Regions from separate parts of the Homo sapiens genome. Here regions 1 and 2 are each linked to region 3. The links come from fine-mapping of genetic effects on gene expression. A gene starts in region 3. Each other region holds a variant in brackets. All regions are shown on one strand. Distances are between the middles of the regions.

Region 1 (4,130 bases), 22 kb after region 3:
GGATGATGGAGAAGGAATGTGGGAAGGATGATGGGGAAGGATGATGGAGAACGATGATGGAAAACGATGACGGAGAATGATGATGGAGAAGGAATGTGGGAAGGATGATGGGGAAGGATGATGGAAAGGATGATGGGAAGGATGATGGAGAACGATGATGGAGAACGATGATGGAGAAGGAATGTGGGAAGGATGATGGGGAAGGATGATGGGAAGGATGATGGGAAGGATGATGGAGAAGGAATGTGGGAAGGATGATGGGGAAGGATGATGAGAAGGATGATGGGGAAGGATGATGGGAAGGATGATGGGAAGGATGATGGGAAAAGATGATGGGAAAGTATGATGGGAAGGATGATGGGAAGGATGATGGAGAACGATGATGGAGAAGGATGATGGAGAAGGATGATGGGAAGGATGATGGAGAACGATGATGGAGAAGGAATGTGGGAAGGATGATGGGGAAGGATGATGGGAAGGATGATGGAGAAGGATGATGGGGAAGGATGATGGGGAAGGATGATGGGAAGGATGATGGGGAAGGATGATGGGAAGGATGATGGGAAGGATGATGGGGAAGGATGATGGGGAAGGATGATGGAGGATGATGGAGAAGGATGATGGGAAGGATGGTGGGAAGGATGATGGAGAAGGATGATGGGAAGGACAATGGGAGGATGACCGAGAAGGATGATTGGAGGATGATGGGAAAGGATAATGGGAAGGATGATGGCAACCAAGACCAACTCATCTTCACCAAGCTCATGGTGTAGCCAGAAAGTTGATCACCCACAGCAGCACTGCCCACCAGAAACAGACTGAGAACCTCCTACTTTTTTTTTTTTTTTTTTTTTGAGACAATATGTTGCTCTATCACCCAGGCTGGAGAGTGCAGTGGTGCAATCATAGCTCACTGGAGCCTCCAACTTCTGGGCTGAAGTGATCTTCCCACTTCAGCCTCTGGAGTAGCTAGGACTATAGGCATGTGTCACCATCCCTGGCTAATTTCTTTTTTGTGTGTGGAGATGGGATCTTGCTATGTTGCCCAGGCTGGTCTTTAACTCCTGGCCTCAAGCAATCCCCCTGCCTTAGTCTCCCAAAGCACTGGGTTTACAGGCATGAACCACCATGCTCGGCCATTTTTAAATTTTCTAGTAGTTGTATCAAAAAAAGAGAAACACGTGAAATTAATTTTAATAATACATTTTATTAACCCCCATATCCAAAATAATATCATTTCTGCATATGAACATTACAGGTGAGATATTTCACATTCTTCTTTTAATGCTGTCCTCCCAGCCTGGCATGTTTTGCACTCTCTGCCTCAGTGTGGAGCGTCCACAGTTCCAGTGCTCCAGCGTCACCTGTGACCTGTGGACGCTGTGTCGGGCAGCACAGGTCTAGAGAGTAGAGCCTAGGACTGATCCCTTGGGCCAATGGTGCTCAGCCATGGGTGTTGCTGCCCCCAGGGGACACTTGGCTATGTCTGGAGACATTCTTGGCTGCCAGGACCAGGAGTGCTGATGACATCTAGTGACTGGAGAACTACAACGCTGTTCCTCCCAAGAGAAGACCCTCAAATGTCAATGGTGTCAAGATGGGGAAATGCTGCCTTAGTGGATGGGCACTTATTAATCGCCTACTGCATACAGGGTGAGATCGGCAGGGCGTCCTTGGCATACAGCAGATTACTCATGCAGAACGGCTCTGCTGCCAGCTCTGTGCTCACAGGCGCCACCCCACGAGCTGTTCCATGCCTATCACCATGGACAGAGGCGGAGGTCACAAAGCCAGCAGGAGTGTGGACCTAGGACTCAAGTCCAGAATGTTCTTGGCCCTGCACTGTCCTGCCCACCTACACCTGCCAGTCTGAATGTCACCCACCCTGGCCGCCATCATACGAGCACCCCAGCCCCGCCCCTCGACGGGCACCGAGGCTATTCCCACTTCACCTCCTTTACAATTTCCTGCAGTGAACTTCCCAGGCAGACCTCCTGCGCCCATGAACCAGGGTTTCTGGATTAGACACTGTGTGGTCCCTGATGAATCACTGCACCACTGTGCATGTGTTTCCTCCTCTGAAAAACGGGCATATGTCAGCCTGACTCCACAGGGTCACTCTGAAGACAAGGGCATCTGGCCCCTTATCATTCAAACATCCTCTTCCAGCCTTCCCTCACTCCAGCAAATGGCACCTCCAGACCCATGCTGACTTGGATCCAAACCCCTGGGGCCGCTTCCTGGATCCAAAGCCCACTCAGCAGCTGACTGCTGCTCTCCACCTCACAGCCACGGCCCAGTCCAGGGCCCCATCCCCCCCCAACACCCACCCCCACCTCCTCAGGGATCCCTGGGACGCCTCTCCCAGCCCCAAAAGGCCACTCTATGTCAGCCAGAGCCAGCTCTTCAGACATGACCATGGGAAGCCCTACAGACGCCCATCCTGGCTGCCACTGCGTCTAGCACAGGCTCCTCCCCGACAGACCTCCACCTGCCTGAGTTCCCTCACCACTCCCCCAGGCA[T/C]GCAGGCTCACCCTCGTTCCAGTGACACGGAGCTATGAGATCATGGTGGGCTGAAATCAACAGACCAGGGGTTCCCAACCCAGGTGATTGCCCCCAGGGGACGCTGGGCAGTGTCCAAGGACACCTGTGGTCGTCACGACTGGGGGAGCTCCTGGCATGGGGTGAGTGGGGGCAGGGATGCCGCTAGGCACCCTGCAGTGGCCGGGACCACCCCACCTGGGATGTCCACAGGGCCTGCGGAAGACCCTGCAGCAGAGAGCCATCAGCTCTTCCTCTCATGGGTCCCCGGAAGCTCTGGGATCAATCAATCCCCATGGGGCCGGCTCTGGGATCAACACTGTGTCCCCAGCTCCCCGGAAGCCCCTGCAGCCATCTTCCTTCCCTCTACCTGTCAGCCGCCATCCTGCCTGTAAAGCCAGGCCCCGCTTTGCCTCTTCTGTGCGGCACGGGAAGGGGACGGTGCACTCATGAGACCTCCCACCCTGCCTGTGAGATCAGTCCTGGTGTGGGTGACAGCTGTCCATCACTCACTTCTGTTGCTGGGCAACGTTCCATCCCATGAAGATGCCATGATTTACTCAGAGCTTCTAGGCTGCTTCTAGCTCGGAACAACCGCAAATAATGCTGTGAACACATGTCTCTCTTGTTTTATTTATTTTTTTCTTTTCTTTTCTTTTTCTTTTTTTTTTTTTTTTTTTGAGACAGAGTTTCACTCTTGTCACCAGGCTGCAGTGCAATGGCGCGATCTTGGCTCACCACAATCTCTGCCTCCCGGGCTCAAGCGATTCTGCTGCCTCAGCCTCCTGAGTAGCTGGGATTACAGGTGTGCGCCACCACGCCCGGCTAATTTTTGTATTTTTAGTAGAGACGGGGTTTCTCCATGTTGGTCAGGCTGGTCTCGAACTCCTGACCTCAGGTGATCCGCCCGCCTTGGCCTCCTAAAGTGCTGGGATTACAGGCATGAGCCACCGCGCCTGGCCTCTTGTTTTATTTTTGACACAGGGTCTCATTCTGTGCTCAGGCTGGAGTGTGCAGTGACGTGATCACAGAAAGGAAACCTCAGAGCAGAGTTGGGTCTTCACATACGGTGGCCAGGAAGGCCCCCTGAAGAGGTGAAACGTTAGCAAAGGCCTGGAGGAAGTCAGGACCTCTAAGGGATGCCCAGCTGTGCAGACATCTACGGGGTGTCTGGGGAGGGCACCGCTGTGCAAAGGCCCTGGGGCAGGACCGCACCTGGCGAGGCGGAGGAGCGAGGAGGAGGCCAGGGTGGCTGCCGCAGGGTGAGGAGGGGAGAGCAGGAGGAGGGAGGGCGGGGCTGACCCAGCAGGTCGTGAAGGGCCCTGAGGACACGGAGAGGACACAGGGTTTTACCCTGAGCAGGGTGGGAGCCACGGAGGCCTCTGCTGGAGCAGAGGAGGGCACGGCCTGAATTGGGTTTGAAGGAATCGACTGAGGGTAGGAAGGTGGGGGTAGGGAAGCCCGGGGGAGGCGAGCACACCAGCCCAGGTGGGCACCACGGGGCCTGGGCTGGGGGCTGCTGTGGGATGGTCAGGAGTGGGTGGGTTCTGGGCCTGTCTTGAAGGCAGAACTCACAAGATTTTCTGAGA
Region 2 (4,130 bases), 36 kb before region 3:
CTGGGGGGTCCTCCCGCCCTGACCCTCACTCCCTGGTCTCCCGCCCCTCCAGCTCCTGGTCCTGGGGGGTCCTCCCGCCCTGACCCTCACTCCCTGGTCTCCCGCCCCTCCAGCTCCTGGTCCTGGGGGGTCCTCCCGCCCTGACCCTCACTCCCTGGTCTCCGGCCCCTCCAGCTCCTGGTCCTGGGGGGTCCTCCCGCCCTGACCCTCACTCCCTGGTCTCCCGCCCCTCCAGCTCCTGGTCCTGGGGGGTCCTCCCGCCCTGACCCTCACTCCCTGGTCTCCCGCCCCTCCAGCTCCTGGTCCTGGGGGGTCCTCCCGCCCTGACCCTCACTCCCTGGTCTCCCGCCCCTCCAGCTCCTGGTCCTGGGGGGTCCTCCCGCCCTGACCCTCGCTCCCTGGTCTCCCGCCCCTCCAGCTCCTGGTCCTGGGGGGTCCTCCCCCCCTGACCCTCACTCCCTGGTCTCCCGCCCCTCCAGCTCCTGGTCCTGGGGGGTCCTCCCGCCCTGACCCTCGCTCCCTGGTCTCCCGCCCCTCCAGCTCCTGGTCCTGGGGGGTCCTCCAGCCCTGACCCTGGGGGCTGAGCCAGCTCCAACTCCTAGCCTGGCCAGTCAGCATGTTCACCTCCCCCTCCCAGCCAGCGACTGGTTTGGGGACGAGCACGTGGCGAATCAGAGGCAGCCCCAGGACTCTTCGTGGAGGACGGACGAGAAGACACCCTTCCTCAACCGGGGCTGCCTGGCAGTCTGGTCACCCTGAGGGACAGCCTGCCTCAGAGGGAAGCTCAGAGCCCCAAGCCCCTCCTTTCCCATCTGAGGGCTGCTGTGAGGAGCCAAGAGGAGCAAGCTCTTCACGTAGTGCTTGGTACACAGCAGGCGCCCACTAGGTGCTAGATGGTGTCATTATTGTGAAGCTGAGGAGAAGCTGCTTTGTCAGGTGGTGGAGGAAAGGGAGAAATTTGCAGTTAGCTTGGGAGGCATCCTGAGCTCAGGCAAGGACCCTACCCGGCAGCTCAGAGCCAACACCTCTCCGTGCTGGAGAAGGGCAGAGTCGAGGCTGCAGGAAATCAGGAGAGAACTCTGGACACCTCAGCCAAGGAAGGACAAGCCTCCTCCGCCCGGCTGGGGGCTCCCTCGGGCTGGGTCATCCACGGGGAAGGAAGGAACGGGCTCACCGTCAGACTAGCCACTTTGTCCAGAGGTGGACTAAGCCTCCCTCATTGGACTGGGCGTTCCTTCAAGCAGGAAGCTGTGCCTCCCCCATCAGGCCGGGATTTCCGTAGGAAGAATCCTCAGACCCCGGAGTCACGTGAAGAGAAAACTCATCAGACTAGGGAGACCCAGAGTCAGCGTGCAAGACCAGCGGGCCAGGCAGTCGTCCCAGCAGGCCGGGATTCCCACAGAGAAAAGACGAGGCCTCCCCTCTCAGACTAAGGAGTCCCATGGGGCGAGGGTCTGGCTTCCCCTGTTGACTGGAGGGCCTCACAGACGGGGCCGCAGCCTCCCACCACACTGACCATTCTTTCAAGGAATGACGAACCTCCTCCCTTCAGACCGGGGGTTCCGACAGAGGCAGGTGGGTTACCCCCGAGAGAGTGGAGCTTCTCACAGAGCGGGGGCCAGCGGCATTCCCAACCAGACTGGGGGTTCAGCAGGGAGGCCCCGGGAGATGGGGTCCTGTAGGAGGGGCTGGGCCTCACCCATTACACTGCTCGGCCGCATTCGCTAGAGAGAATGGGCCTCCCCTGTCAGACTGGCCCCTTTTAAGGCAGAGTCCAGGACACCCCCATCAGACAAGGCCTCCGACAGGAGACAGACTGGGCTTCCCCGTCCCACCCGTCGACTTGAAGGATCTCACGGGGAGAAGGGAGCCTCCCCCATCAGACCAGGGAATCCCGTAGGGAGTGGGGGTGGGGTTGTGCCTCCCCCATCAGACAACACGGCCACACGCGATGACGGCCGCCCCCCAGGCTGCCACATACGCATGTCAAACAGATCCTTTTTGGGGCTGTCCTCCGGCTCGGGGGCGTCCAGACCCTGGGTGTTGACATACAGGTGCTCCTCGTGGTCCGGGGGGCCCCGGGCGTCCGCCTGCACGTAGCCGTCCCCCGGTGGAGCTGGGGAGTGTAAAGAGGGGCAGGGGGTCAGCTGGGAGCCAGGCGAGGGGCTCGCAGG[G/A]AGCAAGGCGGGGTCCCACGAGGAGCTCCCCCGGCCACCACCTGTGCTGCTGGCTGCAGGGCGGATGCTGCTCTGGTCTCCCTGTGGTAACCCGCCCGTCTGCAGGTGCCACAGGGAGCATCTTACAGCAGCAAAGCCCCGTCGGGGCTCCAACCAGGGACAAGAGTGGGGCAGCGTGCGGCTGGGGCTGTGGGCACCAGACGTCCACGCCCAGGGAGAAGGCAGCCGCTGCTCCACCCCACCCCGCCCTGGCCCTCCCCGGCCCAGGGTCCAGAGCTTCCCAGTGCGTGTATGTTCAGTCTCCACATTTAAAAATAATCACAGTAACTCTGCTTCCCTGTAATTATGCTATCAACATGACGCACGGAGGGTCACTTATTCTGACTCAGTTCTATTTCAGGATTTTCCTTCCTTTCTTTTTTTAATTGTATTTTGAACGTGTAAAGTGTTTACATGGGGCCGGGCGTGGTGGCTCACGCCTGTAATCCCAGCACTTTGGGAGGCCGAGGTGGGTGAATCATTTGAGGTCAGGAGTTCGAGACCAGCCTGGCCAACATGGTGAAACCCCGTCTCTACTAAAAATGCAAAAATTAGCTAGGCGTGGTGGTGGGCGCCTGCAATCCCAGCTATTTGGGAGGCTGAGGCATGAGAATCACTTGAATTCAGGACGCACAGATTGCAGTGAGCTGAGATTGTGCCATTGCAGTCCAGCCTGGGCAACAGAATGAGACTCAGTCTCCAAAAAAAAAAAAAAAAAACTATCCACATGGTTCAAACCGGAACAGCATCGCAGGTAACCTTGGGGCATCTCCCTCGGGAGCTGCCTGGACCCCATGTGTATTCTGCCAGGTCCTGACCAGACTGCCTCTGCCTTGGAACAGGGTCTGGCTGTGAATCCACATGAACGTGAGGCTGCACTAGCCCTTGCTGGGTGACGAGGGCAGAGGGGCTTCTCCCCCGCCTTCCCAGTCTACCAAGAGGGGCACAGATTCTCTCAGCTTCTTAGGGTCAGGATGGGTGAGAGGGAAGAAACGCAGTTCCAAGAGTCCGGGGAGGGAGGACGACAGTGCGAGAGGCAGAGTCCGGGGAGGGAGGACGACACCGAGAGGGGCAGAGTCCGGGGAGGGAGGACGACACCGAGAGGGGCAGAGTCCGGGGAGGGAGGACGACACCGAGAGAGGCAGAGTCCGGGGAGGGAGGACGACAGCACGAGAGGCAGAGTCCGGGGAGGGAGGACGACACCGAGAGAGGCAGAGTCCGGGGAGGGAGGACGACACCGAGAGGGGCAGAGTCCGGGGAGGGAGGACGACACCGAGAGGGGCAGAGTCCGGGGAGGGAGGACGACACCGAGAGGGGCAGAGTCCGGGGAGGGAGGACGACACCGAGAGGGGCAGAGTCCGGGGAGGGAGGACGACACCGAGAGGGGCAGAGTCCGGGGAGGGAGGACGACACCGAGAGGGGCAGAGTCCGGGGAGGGAGGACGACACCGAGAGGGGCAGAGTCCGGGGAGGGAGGACGACACCGAGAGGGGCAGAGTCCGGGGAGGGAGGACGACAGTGCGAGGGGCAGAGTCCGGGGAGGGAGGACGACAGTGCGAGACGCAGGCGGGTGGAGGAATCCCTGGACCCTGGACCCGCGCTATGGGCACATTTGTAGGAGTTCTTGGCCAGAGAATCGGGAAGGGCATGAGTGCAAGTGAGAACAGCCCGGGTGTGGGCACAGGGGCAGGGAACGCTGGCGAGCCCCCGGTCCGGGGTGAGCAGCCAGCATCCCAGAGGAACGTGCGCCAGGACCAGAGCACAGCTGGGCACCGGGTGGGCACTCGATGGCTCGAGTTTCTCTGACCAGCTCGAGGGCTCTGACGCTTGGCAGCGAAATGCCAGATTGTTTGGGAAGATCTAAAAAAAGCTCAACACAGATGTTAGCAAGGCTGTTAGGAAACAGGCAGCCGCAGGC
Region 3 (4,130 bases):
CCCTCTCAACTCGGTGTAGGGGGAAGGACCCCACTGAAGCCAGCGTAGGGGGAAGGACCCCACTGAACCCAGCGTAGGGGGAAGGACCCCACTGAAGCCAGCGTAGGGGGAAGGACCCCACTGAAGCCAGCGTAGGGGGAAGGACCCCACTGAACCCAGCGTAGGGGGAAGGACCCCACTGAACCCAGCGTAGGGGGAAGGACCCCTCTCAACTCAGCGTAGGGGGAAGGACCCCACTGAACCCAGCGTAGGGGGAAGGACCCTTCTCAACTCAGTGTAGAGGGAAGGACCCTACTGAACTCAGCGTAGGGGGAAGGACCCCACTGAACTCAGCGTAGGGGGAAGGACCCCACTGAACTCAGTGTAAGGGGAAGGACCCTTCTCAACTCAGTGTAGAGGGAAGGACCCTACTGAACTCAGTGTCCAGAAAAGCAAAGACACAACCCAATGTGAACACAGGCTAATGTTCCTGGCCGCAGAGGCCGGGAGGAGCTGGGAGCACCCACCGGTAGTGGCGTGCGGGAGTGGCTGATCATTTTCCCAGACGCCGTAATGACTGCAGCTGTAGGACAGCTGCTCTCTCAGAAGACGGGGGACTATGCACGGCGCTGTCACCCCTGCAGGTGACTTCACACGGTTTACTATAAACCACAGAGAGGGGCAGACCCGTCAGCAGAGGGGAAGGTTACCCTCCTAGGTGGAGGCGTGCTGTGTCCAGGCGCCCGACTTCCCCGTGTGTTTGAAAAGGTTCATTTATCATAAGACCCAAGGTAAATAAACAAAGGCCGCTTCCTTGGCCGCCCTGGAAGTCCCTGCTGCCTCCCATCTGGAATCCTGGGGTCTGTCCGGGCGCCAGCCCCTTTCCAAACACCCCTTCCCGCACCCCCACCGCAGGCCAGCGTCTCGGGCCCCGTCTGTCATTCGTGAACAGCTGTCCGGGGGGCTCCGGTGGCAGAGACGCCCCGGCCGCTCGCCGCTCTCGGCCTCGCCCGCCCAGTCCGAGTGGGGGGCGGTGCACCTGCGCATGCGCGCCCCTCCCCCGCCGCCCTCTCCCCGCCCCTCCCCACGTGACGCCGTGGGAACCCGGACCCCAGCGCCTCCGGGTGGGGGCAGCCGCCGGCCGCCGGCCGGGGATGGGGGTCCGGGGTGGCGGGAGAGCAGGAAGGATGGGGAGGGGACACCTGGCTCGCGGGGTCCGGGGGTCCCGGAGGAGAGGGTGGGGGAGGGGAGGCCGCCGCGAACGGGCTCCCGGGGGGGGTGGGGGGGACTCACCCGCACGACGTAGGAGACCCCGGGCCCCAGGACCCTGGCGTCGGGGTGTAGCCAGCCGTGCGCGGGTTTGTGGATGAAGCTGCCCTTCCGGATCCACTCGGCGGCGGCGGCGGCGTCCCCGGACCCCGCCGCCCCCCGCCCGCCCCGCGACCCCCGCGACCCCGCGCCCCGACAGCGGCTGAGCGCGGGCAGGGGACAGGGCGCGGCGCAGCGGGGCTCGCAGGCGCCCAGGACGGCGGCCGCCAGCGCCGGGACGCCCCCCGGGCCCGCCGGCTCGGGTTGGGGGTCCGCGCCCCCCGAGGCCCCAGCCGCCCGCGCCGCCGCCGGGCCGCGGCCCAGGAAGCCGCCCGGGGCCGCGAACTTCCACTGCGGCATTCGGGGCAGCAACGCGCAGAAGGTGGTGGGCGCCTCGGGCTCGGGGGGCGCGGGGGGCGCCGGGGGCGCGCGCCCGCCCGGACCCTGCGTCATGGCCGCGGCCGCCCGACGGAGCCCGACCGGGCGCTGCGCCTGGCGCGGAGGAAGCCCTCCCGCTCCGCCCGCTCCCTCCCGCCCCCCGGCCCGGTGATGTCATCCGCCCGGCCCAGCGCGCAGCCGCGGGGGGCTGCGCCCCTGGGACCCCGGCCCTCCTCGTCCCGGAGCCTGGCCGCGAGGCTGGGGAAACTGAGGCCCTCCGAGGACACCGGGCGCTGGCCTGGAACCCGCAGCCAAGGCGGGACGGGGCTTTGAACCCAGAACCCCGTCAGCGACCCTCCCCGCTGCGCCCCCCACCCCCGCCCGCCGCCCAAGTTCGCAGAAGGACCGAGCTGGAGAAGCTTAGAAATTCCACATCCCTTCTTTCCCCTATTTCCTAGTGGGGAAACTGAGGCCCCGGGAGGCGCGGCCAGGGAAAAGAGAACCCCAGACCCTAAGGTCAGCCCCTCCCTCTCCGTTGTTGCAGCTAGAAGGTACCTTAGGGTCACCCCTATTTCTTAGTGGGGAAACTGAGGCGCGGGGAGGGGAAGGGGCGCGGCCGAGGGCTCACAGACGAAGCTCAAACCCAGGAGTGCCGGCTCGGGGGTGGGGGGGGGGGGCGGGGCTAGGAGCGGAGCCGGGCCCCTGCTCTGCGGCCTGTCCCGGCCTCAGTTTCTCCGGCTGTAACTCAGGGGAGCGGGCTGGAGGGTCGCGGCCCTTCTTCCCTCACTTCTGGGGAGCCCAGTCCCGCACCAGCTCATCTGAGCTCTGGGCCTCAGCCTCCCAGGCCGGTCGCTCCATCCCCAGCCTCAACCTCTCCGAGACCGGCCGCACCTTCCCTGGCCTCAAGGGTCGGTTCCTTCTGCACCAGAAAACGGGGTGTCACTGTCACCCCGGGACCCAGCCTCCTGGCCCGACTTGGCTGGAGCTCCCCTGCACCTGCCCCGCCCCAAGCAGGGCTGATTGCCGGGAACAAAGGGAGGGGCCGGGACGCGCTGGCAGGTGGGGAGGGAGGGAGGGGCGAGGCTGCCCGGAGCCCGATCGATAATTCAGGGGATGAGATCACAGCCGGCGCCGCCCGCGGGGCCGGGGAGGTGGGGGAGGGGAGCGAGGCGCGCGGTCGCGATCGGCCGTCTCTGCCGCGGCGCGTGTCGGACTCAGCCCCTGCGCGTCCGCGGGAGGAGCAGATCGTGGGCGCGATTGGTCGGGCTGGAGCCGCGGCTGGACCTGCGCGCGGTGTGTGTGTTGTGCGCAGGGTGTACGCTGTGTCTGGGTGCGTGTCCAGGCATATGCAGGGGATCCAGGCTGCTGGGTCCTGGGGTGTGTTCACCTAATGGGTAAAGGGTGGGACAGGTTTGGCGGCCCTAGGCTGAGGGCTGTGGGCTGAGGAGAGAGCAGCCCCACCACCCCCTCTCTGCGCCCTGCATGCCTCCCAGGCTGCATCCCTCAGGGAGGTCCCGGGGCAGTGTCGCACCCTCCCAAGCTCCGGGATTAGGGTCTTTCTGGATGGGAGGTTTGTAAGGTGGTCCAGGTGCCATCCCTCCCTGGCACACAGAGGGCTCAGTCACACGGCACCCCCGGTGTGTTTCCTTCCTGTCCCTTGGAGACAGTGGCAGGAACTCAGTCCAACATCCAGAGTTCAAATCCTGACATCAGACTGAGGTGGGGGCTCACAGCATGCCCCAGGACAAATGTCCAGTCTCTCCAAAGCACCATTTCCTCTCAGTAGATGCCCCTGGTCCTGAGTTGCTATGAAGCCTAGATGATCTTTATTAATATCCAAAACATAGCAAGCAGCTACTGATGGCAGATATTAGAATACCTCAAGCTCCTATACATCCTTCAAAACCCAGCTTCAATATTGCCTCTTCCAGGAAGCCTACCTGGCTGCCTGCTCAAAAGCTTGGCTCCACCTCCGGCCTCCCCTCGCCCTGGGTCTCTCTTCTGGTCTCTCAGACCCCCTGGCCACTGGAGGGCTACGGGTCTGGCTCTGGAGGGCGGCGTTCGGGTCTCTTTTCTGTGACATCAATAGACACGTTAAGGCCGGGCTCGGTGGCTCATGCCTGTAATCCCAGCACTTTGGGAGGCCAAGGCAGGAGGATCACAAGGTCAGAAGATCGAGACCATCCTGGCTAACATGGTGAAACCCCATCTCTACTAAAAATACAAAAAATTAGCCAGGCGTGGTGGCGGGCGCCTGTAGTCCCAGCTACTCGGGAGGCTGAGGCAGGAGAATGGCGTGAACCCGGGAGGCGGAGCTTGCAGTGAGCCGAGATCGCGCCACTGCACTTCAGTCTGGGCGGGAGTGCGAGACTCCGTCTCAAAAAAAAAAAAAAAAAAAAGACACATTAAATGAGTAAGCACATGTGATGCTGACAGCTCTCCAGCCCAGGAAAGGTTTATTGGCT

What was found. PIP is the estimated chance that this variant, and not a neighbour inherited with it, causes the effect.
Region 1: its variant is the best candidate, but not a certain one, in a credible set for the expression of SHC2 in whole blood (TOPMed, PIP 0.71).
Region 2: its variant is the best candidate, but not a certain one, in a credible set for the expression of SHC2 in skeletal muscle (GTEx, PIP 0.84).

The regions. Positions count from the first base shown.
Region 1 is chr19:480,938-485,067 of GRCh38, forward strand. It overlaps a transcript of CIMAP1D not described here. Among named protein-coding and RNA genes, the nearest start is that of CIMAP1D, 8.0 kb to the left of the region's middle. The variant T/C (reference allele first, on the strand shown) is at 2,524.
Region 2 is chr19:423,116-427,245 of GRCh38, forward strand. It overlaps SHC2 (SHC adaptor protein 2), which reads right to left. Exons shown (of 13, transcript NM_012435.3): 10 at 1,982-2,116. Among named protein-coding and RNA genes, the nearest start is that of C2CD4C, 16 kb to the left of the region's middle. The variant G/A (reference allele first, on the strand shown) is at 2,175.
Region 3 is chr19:459,257-463,386 of GRCh38, forward strand. It overlaps SHC2 (SHC adaptor protein 2), which reads right to left and starts at 1,777. Exons shown (of 13, transcript NM_012435.3): 1 at 1,273-1,777. The coding sequence starts at 1,740. CIMAP1D (CIMAP1 family member D) reads right to left here. Exons shown (of 4, transcript NM_182577.3): 4 at 4,105-4,130.